Homo sapiens: one gene and its partners. The protein of the gene in region 2 purifies or fractionates together with the protein of the main gene of each other region. This does not show direct contact. Each region holds a gene or a part of one and is shown on either strand. Other genes may lie near its edges. The genes, in order: ITPR3, FGL2, ZNF282 and CDK5RAP2.

The links.
Region 1: the proteins of FGL2 (region 2) and ITPR3 purify together in Homo sapiens (affinity purification with mass spectrometry; 3 studies listed by BioGRID and IntAct, with this or other methods). This does not show direct contact.
Region 3: the proteins of FGL2 (region 2) and ZNF282 purify together in Homo sapiens (affinity purification with mass spectrometry; 3 studies listed by BioGRID and IntAct, with this or other methods). This does not show direct contact.
Region 4: the proteins of FGL2 (region 2) and CDK5RAP2 purify together in Homo sapiens (affinity purification with mass spectrometry; 3 studies listed by BioGRID and IntAct, with this or other methods). This does not show direct contact.

Annotation. Positions count from the first base shown.
Region 1 is NC_000006.12:33,687,322-33,694,343, reverse strand, and holds part of ITPR3 (inositol 1,4,5-trisphosphate-gated calcium channel ITPR3), read right to left. Parts: coding exon 7,017-7,022; intron 6,867-7,016; coding exon 6,780-6,866; intron 6,288-6,779; coding exon 6,177-6,287; intron 6,106-6,176; coding exon 5,913-6,105; intron 5,689-5,912; coding exon 5,563-5,688; intron 5,107-5,562; coding exon 4,934-5,106; intron 4,311-4,933; coding exon 4,146-4,310; intron 3,428-4,145; coding exon 3,235-3,427; intron 2,730-3,234; coding exon 2,625-2,729; intron 2,544-2,624; coding exon 2,416-2,543; intron 1,617-2,415; coding exon 1,451-1,616; intron 800-1,450; coding exon 639-799; intron 1-638.
Region 2 is NC_000007.14:77,196,810-77,203,922, forward strand, and holds the start of FGL2 (fibroleukin precursor), read right to left. Parts: upstream 3,011-7,113; 5' UTR 2,985-3,010; coding exon 2,372-2,984; intron 1,509-2,371; coding exon of another isoform or gene 1,506-1,508; exon of another isoform or gene 1,426-1,505; intron 177-1,425; coding exon 1-176. UniProt on the Homo sapiens protein: May play a role in physiologic lymphocyte functions at mucosal sites.
Region 3 is NC_000007.14:149,190,620-149,198,554, reverse strand, and holds the start of ZNF282 (zinc finger protein 282), read right to left. Parts: upstream 3,010-7,935; 5' UTR 2,966-3,009; coding exon 2,801-2,965; intron 223-2,800; coding exon 1-222.
Region 4 is NC_000009.12:120,437,157-120,444,178, forward strand, and holds part of CDK5RAP2 (CDK5 regulatory subunit-associated protein 2), read right to left. Parts: intron 6,587-7,022; coding exon 6,464-6,586; intron 2,817-6,463; coding exon 2,243-2,816; intron 372-2,242; coding exon 139-371; intron 1-138. UniProt on the Homo sapiens protein: Potential regulator of CDK5 activity via its interaction with CDK5R1. Negative regulator of centriole disengagement (licensing) which maintains centriole engagement and cohesion. Involved in regulation of mitotic spindle orientation.

The DNA of each region.
Region 1 (7,022 bases), on a different chromosome or scaffold from region 2:
ATAAACCTGTACACAAAGATCAGTTTGAAATACAGACTAAACGATAAATAATTCCTTCTTTATGATTCATTGCCTTCACTCCATTATTACAGAAATTGGACAGATGACATTTGATTTCTGTAAGTGATTTTTAAAGTTTTTCCAGGCTCCCCTTCAGCCCAGGATCATCTAATTCAGACTTTTTAGGAAGCAGCCTGCCTTCCCACCGAGCTAGAAAACACTCCCTGAGAGCGGCCCACAGATCACTGGCCACGGGCAGGGTCTCCCCAACTCCACCCCTCCTCAGCATCACTGCACGACAGGCCCAGGGATACCACACGTGTTCTTCGGGGCGCATGGGTTTGCTGTGGGATTTTTCCTGACACCCAGAAGTGTGAGGAGGCCCCTCTGCAGCAGCGGCTTCCGTGCAGCCCAGAGCTGCTTCCAGCTGCTGCTCCTCGCCCTGCTGACCTTTCAACAAGTGTCTGCAGCTGTCCGAGCCCCTCTGCCTGGCCTCCTAGGGCCAACAGTCAGATAGGGCCACTCCTCTCCAGGGCCCAGGGTACTCAGAAGCTAAAACCATGAGGCCTCTGGTGCACAGTGATGACTCTAGAATGGCTGGTTTGGGCCCACAGGCCTGGCACAGCCCCTGCTCACACCTTGATCATCTGGGCCACGTAGCTCTCAGGGCCCGTGTAGTCGGTCTTGTTCTTCACGCGGACCAGCACAATGAAGTACAAGTAGTTCCACATGTTGTGCTCCAGCTTGATGTGTTCCTCAAATGACACTGTCTTGTTATCAAACTTGTCCCTCTCCAGACCTGAGGGTGCAGAGGGCGGGAATGAAACCATCAGCCTTCAAGAGCCACTGCAGGGTCACCTGCTGGAGGGGACCCAGCTTCCGGGGGTTGGAGGCATTTGTTCTCGGGATGAGCGCTTCCAACAGCTCGCTCTGGGCTATTTGGGTCACTTCTATTTAAAGCAGCAGCCACTTAGTGGAGATCCTGCCCTGCCGCAGCTGCAGCCCTCCCGCAGCAGCAACCGAGGACTCCAGGAGTAAACGCGAGAATTTCTCGAACTCAGGGGAAGCCCGAATGGCTGAATGAGCGAGGTCCTACAGGCCATACAGGTGACACCTGCCTGAGCCCGAGGTGGCTGGTGAGGGGACTAGCACTTCATTTCAGGGGTAGGAAAAGCACTGGACTGAGACCAGAAGCTCCAGACACTGACTGGGCTCATGTCCTCACCTAGAAACCCCAAGGGTTTACAGGGATGGGCCTGTCCCACTCCTTTCTGACTCCAAGTTCAGGCAGGGTCATGTTCTCCCCAGTTCTGGGATGAGCAAATGCATCAAGTCATCAGCTCCGGGCCAGGGTTCCCCAGGGCAGGAAGGGCCAAACCGCTACTGCCACTGGCATCAGATGACGTTCCAGCCCCGCTGCGGCCTCCACAGAGCAGGAAGCAGCCCTCACCACAGATGAAGCATGTCGTCTTAAGAATCTCCTCCTTCTTCTGCTTCTCACTACGCAGGTCAGCGAAGGTGTCGATGATTACCCCAAAGATGAGGTTCAGCACAATGATGATGACGATGAAGAAGAACAGGAGGTCATAGACCACTCGGGCTGGGAAGAGAGACTCCTGCAGGGGATGAGGCAGGGAGGCTGGGCCCGGTGGTCCCCACATTCACTGGGGCAAGATAGGACTCAGGTTGGGGCCAGGGCTGTGATATTGAGGACCCAGCCCCTAGCAGAAGGAAATGAGGGCCTCTGGCCTGGGGGCCATCAGATGGCAGAGTGGACCCAACCTGGCTCCACAGAGCAAGAATTGCAAGCAGAAGCCCTGAGTTTGGGTTAGGAAAGCGTGGACTCAGGACACGCCGGGGTGGAGGCCTGCAGAAGGAGTCTGGCGGGGAGGTAGGGCTACGAGTCTCGGTGTGTCTCTGCCCCTAACATTGATGAGGGAAAGAGGCAGCTCTGAACACCTCTGCCCACCCTCAGGACGCCTGGCCTCACACATTCCAGAAACCCTCTGTCTGGCCAGGGAGGCGGCCTCTCACTCCCAAGCAACAGGGGAAGGCCTGACATTCGGGAATGTGGCTGCCCAAGCCAAATCATGAGGCCTCCTGATAAAGCTGACTCAGCTCCGCCCTCTGCCCACCTGCTGTGGGCTAGGAAAGCCAGTGGTCACCATCCCTAGCCCTGGGGCAAAGTTTGGTTGCCAAAGTCTTTCCTTATGGAATGGGAGGGTGAGGGGGCAGCTAAGCAGTAATATCATGGAATTGGCCAGGTGTGGAAAGCAGGGAAAAGTGGATACAAGTTCGGGGGAGGGGGTTCAACCCTGAATATCTGACGCGAGGCCAAGGACAGGACTCTCCACAGTTGCTGATCTGGACAGTGGCTTGGGCCCCACAGGTTTGGGAGTGGGCAGGAGTGCTCACATCTTTGGAGGGCTTGCGGAGAATGTCGCCCACGCCACCACCGTTGCGTAGCCCATGGTTCATGACAGTGACGATGCACATCAACAGAGTGTCACAGGCCCGCTCTGTGCTGTCCAGCTCCCTGTCCTCTGCAAGCGGAGAGTGTGCTGAGGCCCGGGCTGCCTGCTCCTCCTACCCCACACAGACTCCTGCACACACACCACCCTCACCTTCCAGGACCTCAGGCACCGAGAGCCCTGAGACACAGTCCATCTTGTCCCCACTGCAGGTGTCCACAAATGCAGCAGCTCCATGTGGCATCCCCAGGGGGCTGGCTGGAGGGGATATGGATGAGATCATCAGGAGGTCCAGTGCCTGGCCTTATCCCCTGGCTCTGTCCCCAGTGTCACATCCTCCAGGAAACCTTCCCTGGTCCTGGATCGCCAGCCCTCCACTGTCCAGCCACAGTGAAGGGTCATCACGCTTCTGCCCCCGACTGGGTTGCACACTAAGGGCAGGGAGGGGTCTCTGTACCCCTAGGCCTGGCACACGGGCAGTTTCTGCAAATACTGGGTTTAACATGAATGACAGTTCAAGGGACTCCAGCCCTCAAGCAAGGGGTTCCTTAGGGGCCAGAGACCCAAGGCTCTCCCACCCACTCAGTGTGTTCCAGAAAAGAGCGAGGCAGACTGGTGTTAGCTAGACGTCCCCAGAAGCCAAGAGGAGAAGCAGACGGGAGCCTGGTGAGGTAAGCGCTGCAGGTCCTGGTCCTGACGCCAGACATTTGTGAGACCCAACCTCATTCCCCACAACCTGCCCAGGAGAGGAAGCCTCCAAGACCTGTGGAGTGGTTGTTGGGCAGCCGGTCGACCTCGAGAATGAAGTCATCCTTGAGGAAGAGGAAGCCGACGATGGAGAAGAGGTAGACCAGGATGAGGGCCAGCAGGGCTGTCAGCAGGATGGAGCGGCCATTGCGGGTCACACTCTTGATGACGTTGAACAGCGTCTCCTCGCGGTAGATGAGGTCAAAGAGCTGCAGGATGGGGTTGAGATAGGGATGGCACCTTGAGGGGCTGGGCCGGCCACTCTCACTGGGGCTGCCACTGGAACCCTGAGGGCTGCCTGGGCTCCAGACAGTTTCCCAAGGCTCCTCCAGGGAGGTCTGCACTTAGTCGTATCCAAGCTGGGTGGGCCTGTCAGGGGAGCTTCTCGAGAAACCTGGAATTCTAAGGTCACAGAAAGGGAGTGGCCCAGGGGAAGGCACGAGGGGTGAAACGGGTGGCTGAATACCAGCCAACTCTTAAAATGTACTTGCTGCATGCCAGGAAACAGTGTAAGTGCTTTCCATGCATTAGCTCATTTCATCTCACAATTATTTTAGAATGCAGGGGCTGTTGTTATCCCCATTTTACAGGTGAGGAAACTGAGGCATGGGGCAGTTAAGAAACTTGCCCAGTTACACAGCTAGTAGTAGCCCAGCTGAGATGCAAAGCCCTGGTCCAGCTCCAGAGTCCAGGCTTGAACCACCACTGTACAGGAGAAAGGGGTCAGATGGCCACCAGGAGTGGCCATCAGGGCCTTGAGGGCCAGGCTTGGGTCAGGCAGATGAAGACTCTGTAATTTCACTGCTCCCAGCCCAGCAGCAAAAGGACTGGACAGACAGACTGGTGCCGGGGAACTGCCAACAACTCATGGGAAGCCCCAACCACCCCATGCCCCCATCCAGCCCCAGCCCACCCAGAAGGCCTCACCAGGATGCTGTAGAACAGCTCATGAGCAAAGAGGCCCAGGACACTGGTCAGGATGTAGCCCACGTGGTAGAGGAATTCCATGTCCATGACCATGGCCTTATAGCCCCGGATGAAGGTGCCACGGTTGCCCACGAAGCTCACCACAAACACGATCTTGTTGGTCAGCTGGGGGCGAGTGCAAGGCATGAGAGTCAGCACCCTACCACCTATGCTGAATCTGCACGCATGTCCCCCAGTGCCCAGCTCAGAGCCTGGGAGGCATGGCATTAATGAAATTGCTTCCAGAAACGCATCTAGGCGCCTGGGACTCAGAATACAGAGGCAGCCCCTTGGGTCCTCAGTTCCAGGAAGACAGTGAGGTACAGGCAACGGAGGATGGGGACAGAGAAGACCACTGACTGGCTCTATCAGGGAAAGGTATTCCTCGCTCAAAGCACTTTATTTCCATCTGTCAGGAGATTGTCATTATGTATGAATCTTCACGTCTGCCGCGTAGCAGTGCCTCTGGGCAGTGCACAGCCCGCACAGTGTGCACAGCCACCCTGACCCTGTTGCTCCAAAGGGACTCTTGAATTTCTGTCTCTGAGTGCCAGCTGCCCTCAGGTGTTGAGGGAAAGGAAGAAGGTACAGAACAGTCCCTGCCACCGGTCTATAAGGAACTTGGGAGCCCAACAGAGAGGAGGGGATGGGACAGAGCAGTGGCTCCTGGAAGCAGCAGGCCAGCTTGCCGTCTGAATGCACAGTGAGCATGAGCTTGTTTGGGAATGGGGGCTCCCTCTGGCACTCACATTGAGGGCACCCAGGATGTTGAGTGTGGGCCCGATGCCCAGATAGTAGATGGAGCGCAGGATGAGCGCCACGATGAGGGGGCGGATGCTGTAGCGCTTGGTGAACAGGGCCGCGATGGAGAAGCAGATGAGGATCCAGAAGAGCAATGAGATGAGAGGGGAGTCCAGCACGCCTGGGGGCCAGGGGCAGGGTGAGCAGGGCTCCCTCAAGCCCACCACGGCCCCAGAGCAGGTCCAACAGGTGCCGAAAAGCCACCTTCTCCTGGCCGCCTTCCCGGTTAAGTTCCTGGTGCCTGGTTTTAGCCTCCTCCATTACACCTGCCTCTCAGGCCTAAGCGGGAGGCCCTGTCCGGCTGCGGCTACCAGGTTTTGTTTCTGGCTGACACATCTATGCGTGTGCACGTGCCTGCATGCGCCATCTCCCATGAGGTCAAAGACCCTGACCATCCCCTTTGACCGCACCTGTGTCTCCATGATGGGGCGAGAGCCCACAGGATGGCGCAGGGGGTGCTTCTGCACACTCTGCATCTGGTGCCCTCAGAGGCCAGCTGGCCTCAAGGCTCTGCCCCAACCCAGGGAGGAAGCATGGCAGGGCCCGGGGAACCTGCCGGCCAGCCCTGTGTTCTCACCTGTGGACGCGCCCTCCATGTAAGGGTAGAAGAAGGCAATGATGATGTTGATAAACACGGCCAGGTTGAAGGAGATGCTGCCCCACAGGGTCATGCGGCGGGAGAACCAGTAGATCAGCGGCATGCCTGAAGAGGAGGGCAACGGTGAGCTGCTGGAGGGCCCTGGTGAGCACCCCCTGCCCCTTGCATGTGGGGCCCCGCTCAGGAGGAAGCCACACATGGAAGAGCCCTTCCTTGGGGTGAGGCGGGGTTGGGCGCAGGGCACCCACAGGCAGGCAAAGGAGGCCGTTATAACAGGGCATCAGTGAACAGCTCCAGACCGCCCCACCCTCCCGCCCGTGGGTCCTCACTGCGGAGCTTGCGCTGCCACTCCATCTCGTTGTGCAGGAAGGAGGACTGGTCGAAGAAGTCGCTCACTTTGCTGCCCTGCTCGTCCTGCTCAGTAGTGGTGAAGAGCCGGTGCTTGGTTTCCTCCGTCAGGAACTGGCAGATGCCGGGCACTGGGAACACGATCTGCTCCATGCTGCGGTCCTGCCGCACAATCTGAGCACACACAGCACATGGTCACGCCCGGCGCAGGCTCCCACGCCCGCCCCTGCTGCCCACAGGCCCACCTCGATCTGGGACGTGTGGTTCTCATAGTAGGCCAGGGGGTCTTCCTCCTCCTCCTGTGCTGGCGCTGAGGACTTGAGCATCTGTGACAGCTGCTTGTTGTTGAGGCTGAGCTGGAGGTGGGGAGGGCGCGGAGGTCAGGCCCCAGCCTCCACATCCAGGCTGGCACTCAGCCCCCACCCTCCCAGGCCTTCGCCTAGCTCTGAACTACACTTCAGCGAGTGTCCCCGCCAAGCCAGAGCAGGCCAAGCCCAGCCCAACTAGGACTGAGCCTTGAGAACCTGGTGCCAAAGGGAGGGGAGTGGGAGAGCCATGACCAGAGAATCCCAGAGGATAGCGGGGGCCTCCTCAGTCCTGCCCAAGTGTAGCCCGGGTCCTGCTTGAAGCTTCCAGACCCACCCTAGACCCACCTGAGCCTTGCTTCCATTTCTGTCTGGGTTTCACCCACGGCTGCCAGTCCCAATCAGCCCCCTGAGCTGTACCCCCAAATTCTAGCCTGGCTCATATTCTAGGGCCTCACTCTGTTCCAGGCCACGCCCTTGGGTCAAGTGTCCTCCCTGGGTTCCAGGCCCCACCCCCACCCCAGTCTCGGGGCCAGCACCCACCATGGAAGAGATACCCTCGGCCTCCTCCTCTTGAATGCGCTTCACCGGCTTCAGCAGGTGCTGCAGCTGTTTATTGTGCCTGGAGAGCTGAGGGAAATGGCAGCACAGTCACCAGGGTGTGGTGGCTGGGGGACATGGTGGCTGGGGGGCGACAATGGCGACTGGGGGATGATGGCAGCTGGGGCGGGGTATGGTGGCCAGGGGGGTGATGGCCGTTGCCACGGGTGGAACTGGTACCTGCAG
Region 2 (7,113 bases):
GTTGGTGCTCCCATCGAGACGTGCCTGCAGCACTGTCCAGCCTCCCCCCATGGTCTCCATGTCACAGTAAACTTCAAAGCTACTATTTTTGGGATCAGGTGTAACTCTGTAGGTCTCACTGCTTCTTTTGCCTATTGCGTAGTAGTCAGAGCAATCTTTATATATTAGATGTTGAACTGAAGGGGAAATAAAAGGAAGGCATTGGATCTTGTTAATAGAAACCATGCATCTGAAGAATTCTTTATATGTACAAAAGCAGTTTGATAATTGAATCAATGGCAGTAATGAAACTTTACTAAACTTACTTGAACCTGTTTAGCAAATGCTTAAGGCCTCACAAGAAGAACCTAATGTTATAAAGCAGAAAGGACCTCTAATATACTCTTGGTTGGTAGTAATAATGACAGCATCAACAGCAAACGACAATAAGAAAATAATAAAAGTACAGTTTTAATAATTTAGTATTATGTAGTGAGGCCTACCTATACGTTCTAGGCATGCTGCCAGACTGGGTAACATTTTCACACTGAATCTGAACATTGACCTTATGATGTAGGCGTTACTGCCAGTCTGCATGTGAGGATATTTAGGCATAAAGATCAGTGGCTTGCCCACCTTCACCTGAGCTTTAAGTGGCAGAGCCAGGACACTAACTCAGATCTGGCTGGCAGCAAAGCTTTGTTCTCGTAATCATTGCATCCCTTGGTCCTAAAAATCAGATGATTCTAACTCTCCTAGAACTGTATTCCTTGCATACAGAGGAAGCACAGGCTTCTATTTTCTTTCACCTAAAGGGGCTGATAGCCTCTACTGTCAGAAGGTTTTATAGCATATATTCCAAATGATGTGTTAAAATCCTAATGCATAGGATTGATCATAAATTCATATTCATTTCACTTGACAACTATATAAAGAAGCTCAAGTGAAAAAGAAGTATCTTTTTCAATGACACACCAATATTCTTATTCTGTATTTATTATCTAGGAAAGTATTTAGCCACTATTTCACATGTTGGGTTTCTAGAAAGAAACAACAGGTGACTATATTGAGGATAAGCATAATAATCAGTTAACAAAGTTCTGTATGAATCAGACAGATATTTACTCCCAGATAGTTTTTATTAAAATGTGTGACAAATAAGGTAAGTTTAATATGAGATACCCTAAGGCATAAAAATCTATTCCTGTATATTTAGAGCTCAGAATATTCAGTTATTTCACCCAAAATGTTTAGGAGAAAAATAGACAATAGTCTTCATATCATGACAAGTTGCCATGCAGCATCTAATCTAATGTATACCCACTGATGTCACCTAAGCGGTGAACCTTGGATTCGCAGTGTGCCAGGTACATTCAGATGCAGGCTGCCAGGAGTATTACCAATAGAGGTCCTTGAAAATATGACCCTTCCCTCCTTCACTGGCAGATGCCCTGGGGATGGAGCATGCCTGAGATACTGTCTCTAAATGAAAGTGATCTCCGCCCTGTCCTTTCAACCTCACGTTCATGGTAAGTAGAGGTCCAAATGCGGAGATGGCTTTCCAAAGTATGAGACAGTCAGCAACAGTGGTCCCAGTGACTCAGGTGAAAAGCCAAGGTTTGGAGAGTCAATACCACTGTTAGTTCGTGGGTGGAGTAGGCGATTAAGTCTGTGGAATTTCACATGTATTTATTAAAGTTAATTCAAGTAATTTGGATGGTGAGGATGGGTTCTACTTCTATCTGCTTGAATTCTAACTTCAGGTAAAAGAGAAAGAAATATGAATACCTTCCCTTAGTGGCATGCTAAAACTCTCCCCTTAAAATATTTTTTGTGCCACTAGGTCTCAAAGCAAAAATTTGTGCACACATATGAAACTGCTTTTATTCCATCTGTAAACTCTCCCATTTTCTCCAGATATTTGGGATTAAGAACTAGATTACTTGCTAAAATCTTTCAAAGACCTCTTTAGCCATGAGAAGCGGCAGTCAGTCAATCACAAGAAAAACTGATTTCCAACAAACAAGGCACAATTGTGAACATCGCCTTATCTTTATTGTTTTCAAACACCTCATTGAAGAGACAAGTTAAATGCACTAAAACATCAAGAAATTCTCTCTACTTCTGCTTGCAAGTAGGTCTGGCATTAACAAATAAGATCTTAAAATTGAAAGTGACTTCCAGTGGATACAGAACTAACTATGATTTTTGTAATTAGGTCATATTTATGTGGTCATATTTGAGAAGATATTTATTTTTTCCTGTGCACCTTGATAAATAAAAGACTTAATCTGTCATCTATTTAACTTACTGACTCAGGTTAATGTTTATAGATACTCTCTAGCTGTATAACATTTATGAACATATGATAAGAAAACATTATTATACATACCTGGACGTGACTGTATTTGTTCTTGGCTGGGACACTTTGAACATTTGCCATCCAAACTATTGACAACAAATGTTAGATTTGCCACTTTGCTGTCAACATAATTTTCTATGTTGTTCATATTTACAAGATTCAGCTTCTCCAGGCGACCATGAAGTACATTGATCTCCTCTTTGGCATTCTTTAGCTCAGAGGACAGCTTGTTAACCTCACTCTCTAATTCTCTAACTCTGTTATCACCAACCTCTCCCGGGGCTCCTGTACTGGGTAACAACAGTCCGTTTCTGCCTGGGTCTCCGTTGTCATCAGCCTGCAGCTTGCAGTCTTGGCAAGATTTCTTTAGACTATTTACGATTTCCTTGAGGTTTTGGACTTCTTTGAACACCTCCTCGATCCTGCTGAATTGCTTCGGGAGCTGAATAGTCAAGGGGGGCAGGCTTACCTGGTAGGGGCACTCCCCTGCCTCTTCGCATTTCCCTCTGCTTTCTAGTCTCACTGGGCAGACATCCTTTGCTCTTTCATCTTTAATTTCCTCTGTTTCATTGTTTGCCACAACCAAAAAACCGTAAGTGGCAAGAACAGCTGAGCTCAGCCAGTACCAGTTAGCCAGCTTCATCTTTACAGTGCTGCTCACCCCAGCAGGGAGTGCGCAGGGCTGGAGCTGCTTTAATAGCGGCAGCTGCCTGAGTCAGGCTTTCTGTGTTCCCAGGAAAGGGTGGGAGCGTTTGCATCACAAGTTTTAGAAACGCACAGGAAGAGGAGATAGCCCTCATCAAACGCAGTTTGCCAAAAACTGTAACTTACTCTCAATAGAAATAATATGCATTGAAATTATTATAGTCAAATGTACACAGCCAACAAGATTCACTTTCATAATGTATTTTATGAAGTATAAGAAAAGTCTTGCATTTCTAAAGTAATTTGGTATACTTACGCTTGAAGTAAATAATTATACGTAACTTCACTGGAAAAACAGTTTTTAAAGATAAAAAGTAAGAGCTAGTTATCCAAACTGTCTATAGAACAGAAACGTTACTAAAATGAAAATGGTCCTTTTTCCTTCTTAGAATGGGGCATTGGGGAGCCTGTATTTTCTTCATGTTGGACTTTCAGGTGAAATCTTAAGCACTTTTAGAAGTTTCTAAGTGTAACAAAGTACAGCTTTCTGACTATTGCAGTTGACTTTTGCTTCATCTACTTGAAAAAGAGAAGAAAACTAGTGGAGAAAAAAGTGCTACTTTCTATTCCTTTGTCCGTAGCATAGTGTATATTAATGTCTAAATGTCTAAGACCCATTTAAAAGGACATAATTGTCTTTCATCAAAACCAGTAGCTGCCTCCTTTGCCCTTCGACATTTTGGTAATTGTACTGTCATCTTCCACAGCTGCTCAAATGTGAATCTTTGAGCTATGCCAGTGTCTGTCCTGAACTTCTCTTGCCTACAGCATCTTTGCCCTTTCTTTCTGCAGGTAGCCCTGGCAGGCGGGCCTCTTGCTTTCTGTCTCCACGCTGGTTCTTCTACCTGCTCTCTGGGCCACTTGGTATATCAGCTTGTTCAAAACATGTAGCATTAATGATAATAGTTTTCTAACTTTCTCTTCAGAGGCTGAAGGCAGGAAAGAGGAACAGCTTCAGTTAGAGAAACCACCTCCTTTTAATTTGTTTTGCATATTGACATCTCATAAGATTTCTTGTTTAAAAAGGGTTTTTTTGCTTTAAAAATAATTTCAAAATGACTGACATGGGCAAAAATCTAAATGTTTTATTGTATTACTTAAAACACTCTGTAGCCTATCTCATATTTATGTCTTTAACCTGATTTCCTATGACTTTTCTGTATATCCCCTTAATTTTAGCCAAATCCTATTCACATTCTCAAAATGTTGGCAGACTCTTTACTCTTCCATGACTGTATTTATTCTCGCATACTCAGGAGACCTGGCTTCCAACCCTAGATCTACCTCTGATCATGTAAACAGATCATCAGCTTTAATGAGCCTTTGTTCCTGTAGCTGTAGCGGAGGAATTTAGCTATTTCTTCCCTCATACAGGAATGATAGTCATGCAAACTTGGAGCACTTGGCTGGGCGTGGTGGCTCACGCCTGTAATCCCAACACATTGGGAGGCCGAGGCATGTGGATCACCTGAGATCAGGAGTTTGAGACCAACCTGGCCAACATGGTGAAACCCCATCTCTACTAAAAATACAAAAAAAAAAAAAAAAATTAGCCAGGTATGGTGGCGTGTGCCTGTAATCCCAGCTACTCGGGAGGCTGAGGCAGGAGAATCACTTGAACCCAGGAGGTGGAGGTTGCAGTGAGCCTAGATCGTACCACTGCACTCCAGCCTGGGCAATAAGAGTGAAACTCCATCCCCCAGCCCCACCCCTCACAAAAAAAGAAAAAAAAAACTTAGAGCACTTAAGAAAAAAAAAAATGCAGTGTATAAATGTAACATTCTTCCCAAATAAATTTGTCAAACATGTTCTACACACCTTATGACTTTTTTTCTTCCATCTTCATATAGCTCTTTCAAAAATTGTTTTTCTCTTCATTCCATTCAATATATCCAATTTTAGACAAAAACTTTTTAGCTAAAAATATCTATTTAATCCCCTAACTCCTAACCTCATTTCTTCTCACCTATTTTCAAGCTGTGACACTTCCCTGTTGGGAGGTAAGAAATAAATGAAACAATAGATAATTTTAAAAAGGAGACATGATGACAACATAGATAAAAAAAAAAACCATTTTGTAAAGTAGAAATATATAGGAATGATATTTAGTTCCTAGTCCTTAAGGATATTGTGAAATGTCCTTGACTGACTAGAGTATAAATCCCTGCATTTAGTTAGTAAAGTATTTATTAAGGATCTTCTGTATACTCAGCACTATGCTAGAGCATATATAAGATGCGTGCCACAGGCACTTTCATTCATTTATTCCTCATACATATATTGATATACTATATATTTATTCATCATAAATTGACTCTGCACCCTCTGCATGCAAAACCGCTATTCTAGGCACTTGGGCCACACTGGTGAACAAATCAGACAAAAATCCCTTTTTCCTTCTTAGAAAGGGGCATTAAAGACCTGGTATTTTCTTCACGTTGGACTTTGAAATGAAATCTTAAGTACTTTTTAAAGTTTCTAAACCTAACAGAAGTACAGCTTTTGGACTCTTGCAGTGGGCTTTTGGTTCATCTGTTTGAATCAGAAATGTGCGTGTCAAGCACTGCTGCTAATTTTTGGCTGGTCACACCCCAGTTAACCAAGGGCCAATGGCACAGTTTCCCCTAAAAAGCTTGGATGTGCTTTGAGAACTGGCTTCTGTCCCTTCAGAATGCATAAAAAATTCCCTGACATAAGGGTAGAGAACTCCTCTGTTGACCAGTTTCATTGACACTGACAGGTGACCTGCTAGGTTCTCGGTTTAGAAAGTCATTTGGCCACTGACTGGAAGGCAGATGCTAAGTGACTACTGCATGAAAAGAGGCTCAACTCCCCTAATGAGTGTATAACTCATGGAGGGCAGAGAGTGTTGTACCGCCTCTACGGTTCCTCCCTGCACTTGCAGATGAGCAAAGAAAGGGCTCAAAGCAATAAATGACTTGTCTGGTCATTTTACAGTTTTCAGTTTCTGTTTTAGAGTTTTTAAGAGACAGCTGGAATTTGAACCTGTATCTGATTCAAAGTTCATATCTTTTCTCTTTGCCACATTGCCACGTAGGAGGAAAGATAACATGGGGAGGGTATGTGAGAACTATGTGGAGAGCCTGTGCTTAAAGCAATGCTTAGATCAATGGAGAGCCACTAAAGGTTTTTGAGCAAGGAAAATAAAATACTTGCCCCCCCCCCCCCCAGGACTATTTTAGGAATGAATCTTCTGCTGCAAATCAGTGGGAAATGGCATTTTAGGTGAGAGCTAGTAGTGTGGTAGCAGGCACTAGATAAGAGGTGAACCAGTGTGGAGGCAGGAGGGGTAGGAAAGGAGATGGAGGCATTATTACCAAGGCATGATAGAAGCCATGGGATCTGATAAGTGGTGAGAACTGGAAAGAGAGGGACAACTCTGAAATTTGCCTCTGATTGCAGTTAAATGATAGCATGCTAATGACAGAGGTAGCAGTAGGTTGGGGAGAGTGTAGTAGTATTTCTGTTTTCAGTACACTGGGTTTTAAGCATTGACAAGCCACCAAATGCAAATATCAAGCAAAGAGTGGTGGCACATCTAGGTATGAATATTGACACAGAATAGATGTGGATGTTAATTTGAAATCACGGGAATCAAAAAGATGGTCAAAGAAATAGGATGAGAACCAGGAGAGTACAGGAGCGTCATGAATACCAGGAAAAGGGAGGGTTTCAAGCAGGACTAGGCCATCAGAAAATCGAAACCTGAAGAGCTGACTTGTCCTTCACTACTAGGAGTTCCCACCTCATGACTTGACCTTCTGCCTCTTCTCTCTTGCTGAAAGCCCTTCTGGATTCTCTCATGCTGAGTCTACCCTGACTCCTAGTATCGGCTGCTTATTCCTCATGGCGGTGTCAGAATCTTCCTTACTACCCTGAATCTGTCCTTGACCCAGCACTGACACATTACACTCACTTACAGACTTGTTTTTAGATTTAAGCAAATTATTTAACACCAATACATGGTGGGATTTTAAAGTAGCAAAATTTATTTCTATAAGCCGCATATGAAATTTTACTTTCATTAGTCTATATTCACATGTTCA
Region 3 (7,935 bases), about 72 Mb from region 2:
GGCTGTCCCCGTGCGCCCCTCCAGGTTCAGCAGCTGGCTGGCCTGGGCATCCACCTTCCTCTCCACAGCCTGAATGGCAGCCACCACAGTCCAGAGTGAGATCTCTGCTGTGGGCAACTGGGGCTCTCGCATCATGCGGTCGGGGAAGACAGGTGCCCTATCTGGAAAGGGTGGGAACTGAAAAGGCATTGGCCGCCGGGCGTCCATGTCCCATTCTTGAGCCTGTATGCAGAGGGAGAAAGCGACAACCCAGGATGAGACCTTGTGTGAGCCGGGGAAGTCAGCTGGGAACAGGGGTCAACTAATCAGATGCTACATGTCGTCTTTCTTCTGCCAGGCCCCCGTAACTCAGGATACACTAACACCCCCAGCAACAGCTACCCACTCACCCACCCACCCAACTCAACACTCTCCCATCTCCTGCCTAGGTGAGTCAGGCTGGTCACTGGTTCACCCACATTGACCCTTAGCAAGTTAAGGCTGCAACCCCTGCCTAAAATGTCACAGGCCACTTTCTTTGAATAGACCAACTGATTTCTTCAAGGGCTAGCCTTAATGACGAACTTTGTATTTGCCTAGTGTTTTATGTTTCCAAGAACTTTGATGTAAGTTAGCTGACGCTAATCTTCCCAGCAATCTCTCAGCAGGTTAGGGCAAGAATGATGATCTCTGCCTTAAAGATGATGAAACTGAAGCACAGGGAGGCAGCTGGTCACTCCGCAGCGCCTCCCTGCACTGCCAGCTGGGGCAGCTCTAGATGCTGCAGGTAACAAAAAACACATTCCTGGCCAGGTGCAGTGGCTCACACCTTCCCAGCACTTTGGGAGGCCAAGGCAGGCAGCTCACTTGAGGTCAGGAGTTCAAGACCAGCCTGGCCAACATGGCGAAACCCTGTCTCTACTAAAAACACAAAAATTAGCCGGGTGTGGTGGTGGGCTCCTGTAATCCCAGCTACTTGGGAGGCTGAGGCAGGAGAATCGCTTGAACCTGGGAAGCGGAGGTTGCAGTGAGCCGAGATGGTGCCACTGCACTCCAGCCTGGGCAACAGAGCAAGACTCCGTCTCGGAACAAACAAATAAACAACAAAAAAACCCACCACATTCCTACCAGGGCTGCAGTCAAGGAAAAGACCGGAGAGCCCAAGCTAGGGCAGAAAAGCAGCTTCCCCCCATATACAACTACTGTTTCATAAACATTTTCCAAATTGAAAATAGGTTCACTAAAAAAGGTCACTCATTAGAGGTGAAGAGGGGATGTCCCTCACACCCAAGAGGACCAAGAGAAAGAAAAACTCCTCTGGGACCCCTCCTTGCTTCCTGGGGAAGGGGTGCCCCATGGCCTGGGGACTCCCCCTTTTATCTTCCAGCACAGAGCCCTCACCCCAGAAGGGTAAACTAATTGGTGCAATTGAGAGCTGAGACCTATGGCTAAGGGGGGCTGGTTGAGGCTGGTGACAGTTCACTGGTCATCTGGGACCTGGTGTCAGACTCAGGGCTCACTGGACCACATGGGCTGGCAGCCGACTCTCCTTCACACCTGGGACAGGAAGAGGTGTCATTTTCTGTCCTCCCGATGGCTGCAGAAAAGGCCCTCAGGCTAGGAAAAGGGGAGGCCTGCTGCTTGGGGCGATCTGGGCAGACCAGCCCCACTCTCTGACTCAAGAGCAGCCCTGCTCCGGGGCAGACCTGCTCCGGGACACAGCAGAGTGGAGAGCAGGGCCCTAGGATCGCCAGGCCCTGTAATACCAGTAAGAGGTGCTGGTGTTTCCATCAAAAGCACCCATTCCTCCATCACAGAGGCTCCACTCCGCCCTAGCCCACAGAAGGGGACAGAGTCCACAGTAGAAGTTAAGAAAGTCCCGGGGCCCAGTTTAGTTTTCTCGGGTTTGAAGCCCTAACCCTGAAAATGATCAAACACAACACAGCAGCCCCTGGCTCCCTCGTTAGCACCTGGCTGAGAGCCGCGTGGTGAGCAGAGGGGCCCCTGAGCAGCCCAGCCCCAGGGTGGGCCCAGAGAGTCTTCCCTGGGCAAGCTTTCAGGCCTCTCTGAGGATCCACCTCCCCTGGTTTTATACCCAATTCTGGAGCACCGGTTCTGCCCACGGAGATCATCGATGGAGCCTGAAGAAATGCCTGGTGCTACTCTCACCCGTCAGAGACCCTGAGCTCTGGGACCAGGCAAGGGCTCAGGAGTCTTAAAAGCTGCCCAGGCCATTCCAACATGCGGCCAAGTTTGTCAACCGCAGGAAAGACCCCGAAGTCATCTCTCCATGGCCCCCTCCCTGGATCACACCCGGTGCAGGGGGAGAGTGAATTACTCATTACACTTGGTGAAAGGTGGTAATCAAACATTTAAAAAATATCCCCGTCAAATTGGCCACCGTGTAAACACGAACGAGGCATTCACTTCTGCGGCCGGGCGGAAGCACTGCCCGCGAAGCTCTCCGCCGGCCGGGCGCAAAGGGAGCCCCAAGCCGGGGCTCAGCCACAGGGTCAGAGCTCTGCCAGGTCCCGGAAAGGACGGTCCCGGCCCCCGCCCCGCGGGGCCTCCGCACTTGGGCCCGGCGACCGCTGCTCCGCGCCGCGCGGGCCAGGCCTGCCCTTCCGGGCCTGCGTCGGGCCCGCTCCGTCCTGCCCGCCGCGCAGCCCGGCCGTGCCCCGCCCGCCTCGGGCCTCGCCTGGGCGCGGAAGCTGGGAGGGCGCCGCAAGGCTACCGGAGGACGGCGCGGCCCGGTCCCGCGGCCCAGCCCGCGCCCCGCCCCCACGGCAGCGCGGCCATGGCGCCGGCGGGGTTCTCCCACCTGCATGGGCGGCATTCCCTCGGCCATTTCCCCGCGCAGCGCCGGCTCCTGGTGGCAGACCTCCTCCGGGGGCAGAGCCTGGGCCCAGCTCCAGCTCCCGCTGTCCAGCCCCAGGCCCTGGATGCCCAGCTGCTGAGGCTGCGGCCGTGTTGACACAAACTGCATCCTGGGAGTGCTGTTCCCCGCTCGGGTCGGCCAGGGAGAAGAAGAACGTTTTCCAGGCGCCTTCCCCCTCTCCGGGGCCGGACAGCTCCATCTACAGCCCGTAGGAGCAAACAGTCCCCTTCGGCGGCGCTCCCCGCCCCTTGGCAGCCCGCGCGCCAGCCAATGGCCTCGGAGCTCCTGCCCGCCTGCGGGGACCTACCGGGGCCACTCCCGGACTGGGGTCGCCACCGCCCCAAAACTGAGAGGCGGCGGCCTCGCCCAGGGGTCAGGCCCCCTCAATCTGGGATGGCCGACTTTAAAGGCCCAAACTATGCGAGGACCTGGACTGTGGGCTTGATTACTGTTAATTCTGCAAATGTATTGGGCATCCCGGGAGAAAATAGTGCCTGACCCTTGTGAAAATTTTGCAGGAGTAATTCTGTCTTCAGACACTTTCTTCTGGCCTTCTGCCTTCCCTCACTCCTTTGCAGACTTTACCTCCCACTCCCCTTCTTCCCAATCCAGATTTACCTGGACCCATCCCAGAGCTTTTGCACTGTTATGGATGATAGAGAAGTGATTCATGTTAAGGTGTCAAAAGAGGGCTGAGCTCTTTCTCCCAGGTAAGGTGCAGTGCATTTTAACAGTGGCCTCTTCAAACACCTTGAAATTGGGTTGGGCGTGGTGCCTCACACCTGTAATCTCAGCACTCTGAGAGGCTGAAGCAGGAGAACGACTTGAGCCCAGGAGTTCGAGACCAGACTGAGCAACATATTGACACCCCATCCCTATAAAAAATAAAAATTAGCCGAGCGCGGTGGCTCACATCTGTAATCCCAGCACATTGGGAGGCTGAGGCAGGCGGATCACCTGAGGTCAGGAGTTCGAGACCAGCCTGGCCAACATGGTGAAACCCCGTCTCTACTAAAAATACAAAAAGATTAGCCGGGCGTGGTGGCGTGGGCCTATAATCCTAGCTACTCGGGAGGCTGAGGCAGGAGAATCGCTTCAACCTCCGAAGCGGAGGTTGCAGTGAGCCAAGATCGCGCCAGTGCGCTCCAGCCTGGGCAACAGAGCGAGACTCCATCTCAAAAAATAATAATAAGGCCGGGCGCCGTGGCTCACGCCTGTAATCCCAGCACTTTGGGAGGCCAAGACGGGCGGATCACGAGGTCAGGAGATCGAGACCATCCTGGCTAACACGGTGAAACCCCGTCTCTACTAAAAATACAAAAAAATTAGCCGGGTGTGGTGGCGGCGCCTGTAGTCCCAGCTACTCGGGAGGCTGAGGCAGGAGAATGGCGTGAACCCGGGAGGCGGAGCTTGCAGTGAGCCGAGATCGCGCCACTGCACTCTAGCCTGGGCAACAGAGCAAGACTCCGTCTCAAAAAAAAATAATAATAATAATAATAAAATAAAAAATAAAAATTACCCGGGCATGATGGCTAATGCCTGTACTCCTAGTTACTCAGGAGGCTAAGGCTGTAGGATTGCTTGAACTCAGGAGTTGGAGGTTGCAGTGAGCTGTGATTGTGCCGTTGTGCTCCAGCTTGGGCGGCATAGCAAAGATCCTGTGTCAAATAAATAAATAAATAAACCTTTAAATCGGGCAGTCATGGTGGCTCACACCTGTAATCCCAACACTTTGGAGGCCAAGGCTGAGGCCAGGAGTTCAAGACCAGCCTGGGTGACACAGCGAGATCCCTTCTCTACAAATAAAACCCTTTAAAGGCAGGTCAGTGTCACTTTGAAACATCAGGCCAGGTCAGAGGAGGAGCCAGGGAGAGGCCAGTATAAGCTGATGAAGATGGAGGAGGGGAAAATTCAGTCATTCCAAATGTATTTATTGAACACCTACTGTGTGCCAGGTACTGTTTAGGAAGAGGGTGAGCTTTGCAGTTGCATACACCTGAGTTTAAATCCCAAAATCACCACTCACTAGCTATGACTTTGAGCAACTTATTTAACTTCTCTGAGCCTCATTCTCTTCATATATAAATGAAGAAAATAATGGCAACTCTATTTTAATGTTGTAAAATTAAATGAGAATTGTGCCTGGCACATAGCGAGCATTCTGCAAAGATAGTTACCCCCAAAAGGTGTTTTTGTAATTATTCTCAAAATAGTATTTACTTTGTTTTCCTAAAGGACCAGTCCCTGTCTTGTTAAGGAAGAGATCTCTGAGGCTCATCACCTTGTGTGGAAGCAGACCTGCTAGTACCTTTAAGTTCCACTGCACTTCATAAAATAAAGGACATTATTGGCCTACGTGAGACATGTGCTTAGAAGGCCATATTCAGAAGAACAGTTACCAAGTACTTTCTCTGCTAGGCACACTTCTAGGATACAGAAATGAGTATTCACAGACTTAAGATTATCCTCAAGGAGCTTATAGGCCAGTAAAGTCCATGCTCCCAGAAGTCAGTGATTTCCTTCCCTGCTTCCTGGCCCTGATTGTAAACATCACGTCCACTTTTATTAGAGGAACCAGGCAAGTTAAGTCTGAAAAGCTCTAGGCAAATTCATTTCCACCAGCGAGCCACATTTCAGAACACGTCTTCTGCACTGTAGATTATCAACTATCTTTTCTCTTTCCTAGAGGTGATAAAGGAAGGACTAGGTTAGTCCCAAACATTTATGCTATCTTTTCTGTATAAAGCCTTTAAAATGACTTCCCTTCCTAAGCACTTAACTAGTTATAACGATGTCCTTTGTTACATAGTAAGACATCGCTGTAGTGTGTCTACTTCACATTTCTCCTTCACAGCGGGTGGATTTTCATGCAGCCATCAACACTATCACCCTTTGTGACCAGAGTAGTTGCTCAGAGCTAGAGGTCCCATTCATTGTTAAGATGATCCCAGTACTTTGGGAAGCCGAGGCGGGCAAATCATGAGGTCAAGAGTTTGAGACCAGCCTGGCCAATATGGTGAAACCCCATCTCTACTAAAAATACAAAACTTAGCCAGGCATGGTGGTGTGCGCCTGTAGTCCCAGCTACTCTGGAGGCTGAGGCAGAAGAGTCGCTTGAGCCCAGGAGGTGGAAGTTGCAGTGAACCGAGATCCTTCCACTGTACTCCAGCCTGGCGACAGAGCAAGACTCGGTCTCAAAAAAAAAAAAAAAGAGATATATGAGCAAAGCTACTCAACTCAAACAATTTAAATGCACAGGCTTCATTGTACTTGCAATATTTTATTTTATTTATTTTTGAGACAGAGTCTCACTCTGTCACCCAGGATGGAATGCAGTGGCTCAATCTCGGCTCACTGCAACCTCCGTCTCCCAAGTTCAAACAATTCTCCTGCCTCAGCCTCCCGAGTAGCTGGGATTACAGGCGCTTGCCACCATGCCCAGCTAATTTTTGTATTTTTAGTAGAGGTGGGGTTTCACCATGTTGGCCAGGCTGGTCTCAAACTCTTGACCTCACATGATCCACCCGCCTTGGCCTCCCCAAGTGCTGGGATTACAAGCATGAGCCACCGCACCTGGCCACTAACATTATTTTATAACCACCAAGCCTAGCAACCACAGGCCATAAAAGGCCGTAGTGGATACCAGCAGGAAGGTAGTGAAGGGAGTGATTAAGGAGAACTTCCCAGAAGGAAAACAAGCAGGGAATGAGGAGGAAGCTGCTGTAGCTGCACAGGCTGTGGGCCCCGTTATAGGTCCTCCCATGATCAACGGACTGATGAGACAGAGAGATCCCCAAGAGTGGGAGAGACCCTGCACTGGGAGAAGTGTTCAGTCATAAGACTGGTTTCCGGAAATCACTGGGTGACTAGGAGACAGTTATCTAACGTACCGAGGAGCAGAATGAGCAACTGGATAAAGTGGATTATAAATGCCATGTATCACGGTTAACACACGTTTCTTGTTAGGGAAGGACCCAGGCCTGGCCCCTCAGTCTCTCAGGTGGGAACTGACTGCTTTTCATCCCCTCCCCTAGGAATTTTATTGTTACTGCTCTGGACAGGATATTTGAAGTGATAGATGCTGAACTAAAGAATACAGGAGAGGCCGGGCGCGGTGGCTCACGCCTGTAATCCCAGCACTTTGGGAGGCCGAGGTGCGCAGATCACGAGGTCAGGAGATCGAGACCATCCTGGCTAACACGGTGAAACCCCATCTCTACTAAAAATGCAAAAAAATTAGCCGGGCGTGGTGGCGGGCGCCTGTAGTCTCAGCTACTCGGGAGGCTGAGGCAGGAGAATGGCGTGAACCCGGGAGGCGGAGCTTGCAGTGAGCCGAGATCGCACCACTGCACTCCAGCCTGGCGACAGAGTGAGACTCCATCTCAAAAAAAAAAAAAAAAAAAAAAAAAAAAAAGGTATACTTCCGTTTGCGGCGCGGCTTCTTTCTTTCCGTGCCGATAGCGCTCACGCAAGCATGGTTAACGTCCCTAAAACCCGACGGACTTTCTGTAAGAAGTGTGGCAAGCACCAACCCCATAAAGTGACACAGTACAAGAAGGGCAAGGATTCTCTGCATGCCCAGGGAAAGCGGCGTTATGACAGGAAGCAGAGTGGCTATGGTGGGCAAACTAAGCCGATTTTCCGGAAAAAGGGCCAAGTGATCCAGTTCTAAGTGTCATCTTTTATTATGAATACAATAAAATCTTGAGTTTATGTTCACTTCAAAAAAAAAAAATACAGGAGAGGCCAATGGAGAGGGGATGCATCAACGCCAGAACATTTATGTCTACTATTTCCTAAAGATTTCTGGTGCTCTGCGTCTTTCCAACAACTGCAATAAAGCTTTATTTGAGGAAGAAAACCTCTAGATTCACTGTTAGTTAAGTGAAGAGGGTAACCAAATTTGCACTCCTATCTTGGTTTTTTGCCCCATACCTAATTTAATGAGCAGGCTACGAAGTACAATGTGGTCACCGGGATAGGGAAAGGAAGGCAGCTCAGCTTCTCAGGCTTCCTCCACCACTGGCATGTCCCTGGTCACAGCTTTCCACCTTCATTTTAGGACACTGTGCCTAGTT
Region 4 (7,022 bases), on a different chromosome or scaffold from region 2:
TGTGGTTCTGCTGTCACCTCATCAAGGCAGAGGGGTGAAAGATAACTAAGGCCAAGGAGTTAGCTCCTCCTGTGCCCCTCCAAGAAGTCCTGGGTCAATTACTGATGTCTTAAGACTCGCGTACCTCACCCTACCTACCGTTGAGAAATAGCTTTTCCAATTTCTCCAGCAGCTCAGCACATTGATTCAGCTGTTCCTGGAAACCCTCGGCCACACAGTAATCCACATCACTGGCCTGCAGCAACTCCTCAAATGCCTTAATCATGGTGTTCATGTGTTGACGGGAGATGACACAGATGCCATGGCCATCCTTAATCTGCTGCCGTTGAAGGGAGAGCTCCCTGGCTTGGGACTGAACTAATGAATCGTATCTGATAAAAGAGGGGAAAGAAAATACTTGGACCATTTTAGAATTGAATTTTTGTGACCTTAACACTAATTGGAAAAATGACAGAGTACAATTTTTAAAAGCCTGCAGCTGTACAAGTATATATACTTTTAGAAAAATTGAAACTGTACAAGGTCAGCTCTTCTTTGATTTCACACAGCCAACAAAGGCTGGAACAAAGATTCTTCTGCAACATTTTTAACCTTATAAAGCCCCCAATTAAAGTACAGATTGGCAAGAACTCAGGCAAACAATAAGTTTCCATACACTCTTCAAAAATACTATTCTGAATTGTAGAAACAAGTGCCCCAAGGGTCAGAGGATCTACCAAAAATTCTCATGAAGTGTGATAAAGAAAGTGTACCACAAAGAAAAAAAGACAGGACTCTCTCCTCCCGAACAAAACGTCACTGAATAATCATGATGCTAACTACCATTTACTGAGGGTCTAGGACCTGTCAGTAACTGAATTCAGTGCTTTATATGTTATCTGATCCTCTCAGTCTTCCAACAAATGTATAAATGTCCCCTTTTACAGAAGAATAAACTGACTGCAAAGCTAATTAAGTGGTAAAGATTTTGGATTCAAACACAATTCTCACTTTGAAGATCATTATGCAATATTACCTTTTTACCGTCATGTGCCACCTTTTCCTACGTGAGCCCATAAGAGAAAGACACTGAGAAGTAAACAGGTTAAGGGAAATGTGACTCATGTAAACTGGCCACAATAACCTTGCTCCAGAGAGTAGCTTGGCAAAGATGTTGACACTTCAGTTCAACATAATTTTCTCCTTCCTGGAAATGACAACACTACATGGGCTGGCAGTCACCTTCAACATAGAGTGTGCACATGCAGATTACATGATACCAGCATTAAAGGTGGGGGCCAGTATCATGTGAGTACTGGAGTAACATGGGTAAACATGGGTAACTCATGAGTAACATGAGTAAACATGGGTACTGGAGTGGGATGATGTGGGCTTGAACCCTGGCAATGGCTCTGACCAGCTCTGTGAATGTTCTCTGCCAAGTCACTGCAGCTACTTTGAGGCTCAGTTTCCCTACCTGTAATAACTAGTTTAAGAATACCTCCTTCTCAGGTGATTTTGAGGATTAGATAAGAAAAGTGCCTAACCAGGGGCCTGAGACAACAGCCTTTCAATAATTACAAGCTTCCTTCAATCTCACTGCTTGGGAAGTCTTGAAAAATTCATCCTGGCTCCTGACAATTCAGAACAATGTGTTTGACTCAAATTAGTGACAAATGAAGGTCAACTTTACTAATGATCCCATTTTTGCCATATCTCATGAAGCAAAACCGTATATATCTATGCCCATAAAGCATTATCTTCATGACCTAAGAATTCTTCTCTTTCAACACAAGCTTATTTCTCTAAGATGACCTTAAAGGGTAAAGATATGGAAAATATTTATATTCCTCCTACCTTGCCTAGACATCAGTTTTAGTTTCACAGCACAGCAAAAGCCAGTAACAGAGTCCAGGAGTACACACTGCAGTTCAGCAAAGGCACTATCACTCACCAAGTGACTGGTATGAAACCTTTACCCTGAGCCCCCAACTTGAGGAGGGCGAAATCTGCCCTGCAGATTTCCAGAGGACCCAAGACTCGTAACTGACGTTCAAGTGCGTGGTCGCTGTTCCTCTTCTTTGTGGCCTCACCTCTCCCTTCTCCACAGGACCTGGCTGCCTGAACCCCACCATCAAGCCTTCCCCAGAACACACTCTACCCATCACAGAGTAGTGTTCTCTTTTAGCTCATGGGCTCCCACCTAGTGGCAATACTGGGGGACTACAGGCTTAAACGGGGAGACGGCAGAGGTGGAACGTACCTGGGAGGTGAGAGATCTCTGAACTTATTCTGCAGATTATGGATCTCACTGAAAAGTTGCATGTTCAAATTCTGCTCCTTCTGCAGCTTGTATTCCTGTTCCTCCAGCTGCTGTTTGAGGTTCTCCAGCACCCTGCTGTCAATCATCTCTGGGGCCAGCGGACCGAGGATTTTCACGTGTTTCACGTATCGCACTTGGTGCAAACTTGAAAAGGTCATTTCTTCCCCATCAGAACCATTCTTGGGCTTGCTCAAGCCATCCTGGGCCCCTTCTGTCCCACACAAAACTGTAATTATGGCCTCACTGCACTGGGAGTGCTTTTGAAGCTGAAATATGAAATTCTGGTAGCCTTCCAGCTCAGTTTCCAAGTCATGGATTTTCTGTTTTAAGTATTCTGTCTCATTTGAGGTATTAATGCTCTCTGACTGATCAGTCCCCATCACACTGACTTTAGCAGAAGGCTGACTCTTGGAACTCAGGTAAGTAGCTACTGAAGTTGGGCTCAGAACATCTTCAGGATTTTCTTTGCATGATGGCAAGCTGGCAAGGTCATCAGGTGGGCAAATCTCAGAGTCTGAAAATCAAATACACTTATGTCAGTATCTCTTTTACTAAAATCCAAACCCTCTCTCCTTCCTCACAGCCCTAGCCAAGCCAAGACCACTGCAGTGACCTAACAAGCCTCCCTCAAAAAGGCCCTAGTATTTCCTAACACACTTCCCTCAAAAAGCCTCCAGTCTTTCCTAACAAGCCTCCCTCAAAAAGCCCTAGTCTTTCCCTCTTTACCCCTCAGTTGTCCTCTTCCTCAGAGTGACTGTTCTAAAAAGTAATTTTAACCATGATAAACCCACACACACACCCCCTAAAATTCATCGACATTCCCAGTATCTACATGAGACCTTCCATGATCTAGTTCCAGGCAACCTTTCCAGGAATATCTCTGGCACCACTCTGGAGATTTCCTACAAAATTAACCATGATTCCCTGCACATTGCGTGCTGTGTCATGCCTCCATGCTTTTGCATGGGCCGTGCCCTCTGCCTGGAACACCTTCAGCCCTCTATTCTACTCCTACCTAATGAACTCTTTCCATACCCAGATCTAATTTTCCTTCCTCTGCAAGCCCACTGCCAAACTATGCAAAAGTCACAACTCGCTGTGGTTCTGTAGCACCTTATGCATATTACTCAAGACAAATATACTATGTGCTGGGTGCTAAAGTAAAAATTTTAAGTGGCTTATTTATTGATTCACATAGCAATTCGTCATCTGAATGTAGCTCTCCCTCACCAGACTGCACGTTTCTTCACAGCAGAGATGTGGCCTTTCATTTTCACATTCTCGGCGTCTAGTACAGAACCTAACCCAGACCAGAAGTCAGTGCCAGTGTGAGAAATATTGAGAGATTCTGTGAAGCAACAGTAAAGAGTGGTAATTCTGAATATCCACAACACGTGACAGTCTTCTCATTTCCATGTCTAATGGCTTCCAGGAGATGCCCTGACATCCCCTTTAGTGAGGTGTTTCACTCACTCACAACACTGCCAGGAAATATTTCCTTATAGCTAGTAATAGCTAAACCCTTAGAGATGCAGTCAAACTTGTTTCAGAAGTGGAGTAGTACAGCAGAAAGAATATGAAGTTTGAAGGCCACACAGCCTGAGGCAAGTGACTTTACTATCCAAGAGCCTCAGTTTCCCCTGTGTCTAAAATGTAGAAAGAGATGTCTCATATGGTTGTAGTGCAGCTTCTGTTCTTAACCACTGTGCCACACTGCTGGCTGCCCAGGGAAAGTTCCGTTCAATATAGAGAGCTGTCTGAATACTTAAGGGGCAGCGGAATGTAGTAGAAAAACCTGTCTTTGAAATTCAACAGACATGGTTTCAAACTCTGGCTCTGTCACATAGGCAAGTTACTTGACCTCTCTGAGCTTTAGTAGCTTTATCTGTAAAATGGAAAGAACATCACTGAAAAGTTGTGTGTGTGTGTTTGTTTTTAGGGATTATATGGAACAAAATCTGCAAAAAGAAAAAAAAGGCTAGCACAGTGTCTGGCACATAGTAGTGAAGGAATCCAAGTAACACAAACATCCTCTAACCATTCCAAGATAGAAGGAGATGCCCTTCACCGGAGGCGTGCGTGCGAAGGCCAGCCTGGAAAAATGCTACAAAAGCAACAACGTGGGTTGGACTGGGTGACCTAGGAGATCTCTCAGAAAGAAATTCACACACAAATCCTCATCAGACTGCATGTCCCAATTTCTGGTTCTGCAATCTGCTCCTTGTGACTTGAGGTACACTCTTGTATCTGTTCATGATGCAAATACCATAAAGTATGGCATTTCATTTCAGAAAGCAGCTGCTACCTGACCTAAAGGAAGCATTCCTAATACAGTATTTTTATTATACACAATGTTATGATAATTACTCAATAAGAGCCTTGAGGGTGCAGACCGTGTCATCCATGTCTGTTTCTCCAGTATCTAGCACAGGGTCTGCGACAGAGAATGTACTCACCAAGTATTTCTGGCTGAACAAGAAAGAGAAAGAGGAACTGGGGAGGGAGATATCTCTCCATAAGGCTTTTTTTCCAGTGAATCACCCTCCAAGACAAGAAAATATCTTTGCTGTAATAACCTCATGATAATAGAATTTGGTCTGTACTTCATGGCAAGAAGCGTGTTCACTCATGGAAATAAAGATTAGTTCCCAGGACTTTCCTTAAGTAATTATGAGGCATCACTAGTACCCCCATTTTACAGAAGAGGAAGTTGAGGCTTAGGGAGCTTAAGAATTTGCTTAGGGTTCAGGGTAGGTAAGCAGTAGAGCCCCTCCTCAAAGCCTGGCAGTCTGCCTCTAACACTCTGAATGATGCTTCCCGAAGTAACACTCCTGCAATCCAATCTCCTGTACCGCGGTGCATGAGCAAAGAGAGAGAGAGTTCTTAACCCTCAATGTGAAGGCCAAGATGCCTGTAAAATCCTTTATTCACATCCCAAGTATCTGTCAAGGGCCTTGTGAAAAAGAAACAGCAATGAAGATGTCACACGCAGCACCCAGCCTCAGCTGCGCAACAATTAAAAGGTGGAAGTTCAGGCAGATGCAATTCACATACAAAGTTCTGGAAGCACATTCAGAAAAATGAAAGACATTCAGTAATGAAGGGAAGTACTGACAGGGAAAGGGAAGCTGTCGATTAGTTAAGAAGTCTGTATTAATAACTATCAAGAAGAAATCAAAAGATGTCCCCAAGACCATTTATGAATATTTGCATTATAAGAAATACTATAGTTCTACAACTTTCCACAATTCAGCTAAGGGGGACTTTATTGCCTGGTAGAGTAGCTTTCTCCTCAAAGCCCAGAACACGCAGAAGCATGTGACCATGTGTTCACTGCAGTGACTCTGGACCTTGCAAAAGTATACAACAGTGTATATACCACAACTCAGTATTTTTCCAGAGACTGGTGTCCCCATGGCCATCCCATGACAAATTTAGGATTCTTGAGGACAATTATTTCTAACAGAGTGAATTAGATCTGGATTAATAGTGATTTTTTTTAATGAAGGGGGAAAAATATCTAACATAAAAAGAATGTAGGCATTTGTTCATTCTGGTTGAATGAGAACATGAGTATTTGTTATATTATCTTTTGTGCTTATGTATGCTTCTAATACTTCATAATTTTAAAAAGAAAGGAATACAACTTGCCTCTGCCCTCACCCGTATCTCTGCACCTTTTCCACTGATCTGCCTGGCAAACCCCACAAACCCAGTCTCAGCCTCAGGCTCTCTTCTGACCCACTCCTCCTGGGCACACGGACCAACACCAAGCACACCTCAGCAACAGGCAGCCCCGCGCTGAATACTAACAGGCTGTTGGGATGATTGTCTCCTCCGAGCTGTGGGGTCCCTAAGAGCAGGCTGTGTCTTTTCATGTTGAACCACCAGAACCCAGCCCACTGCCTGGTAGAGAAGCATGCTGACACATGGACGGGTGGGTTCTGACATCCTACTGTACCTTGACTCTTCTCCTACTTACCAGCTGGGTGACCCTGGGTCAATTATTTCTTAAAACCTCAGCTTCCCATGTGTTAGACTGGAATGATAATAATGCCCTGAGAGGGCTGCTATGGGCTTAGTAATAATTTTTAGATAAAACATCCAAATGGTGCCTGGCACATGGAAGCTGTTCAATACACACAGGGGCTGAATTCTGACCAATCTCGTAGCTTCTTTGCTGATCACTGTCCATTTCCTTGTCTCTCCAGACAGAAGATGTGGTTTTAATTCCTTTCTGCTCTCCTGGGCTGTCCTGGTAGGCTGCTCCCACAGGGGGCTGAGCTACAGGCAATCACAAAGAGAAAGAAAAATAAATAAAACCGTAAGACCTGAAACTTAGCCAAGCAACTGAGAAGAACACAAAGATACAACAGGGAAAATAAAAACACTGGGGAGGCAAAATGCAATTTATAAGATAAAATTAATCTATCGAGCTGCCATAACAGGACATAAAAAGCATAAATATACTGCAGCTTGTCTGAAATGGTTTAAGTCCAGGCTCTCAAAAAGCTGAGTGAGAAAATGAATTCTATCAATTCGTGCCCATTTTTCCCAAGAAGAGAGAGGCCCTAGGGTCTCCTGGGCAACTGTTTGAGGTAGCACCTGGAGTTGAGGCACTCTGGTGTCTCAGCAAAAAATAAAAACAGTATTGAGTGCAAATGGCAAGCTAGGAGCCAGCATGGTGGCTCATGCCTATAATCCCAGCACTTCGGGAGGC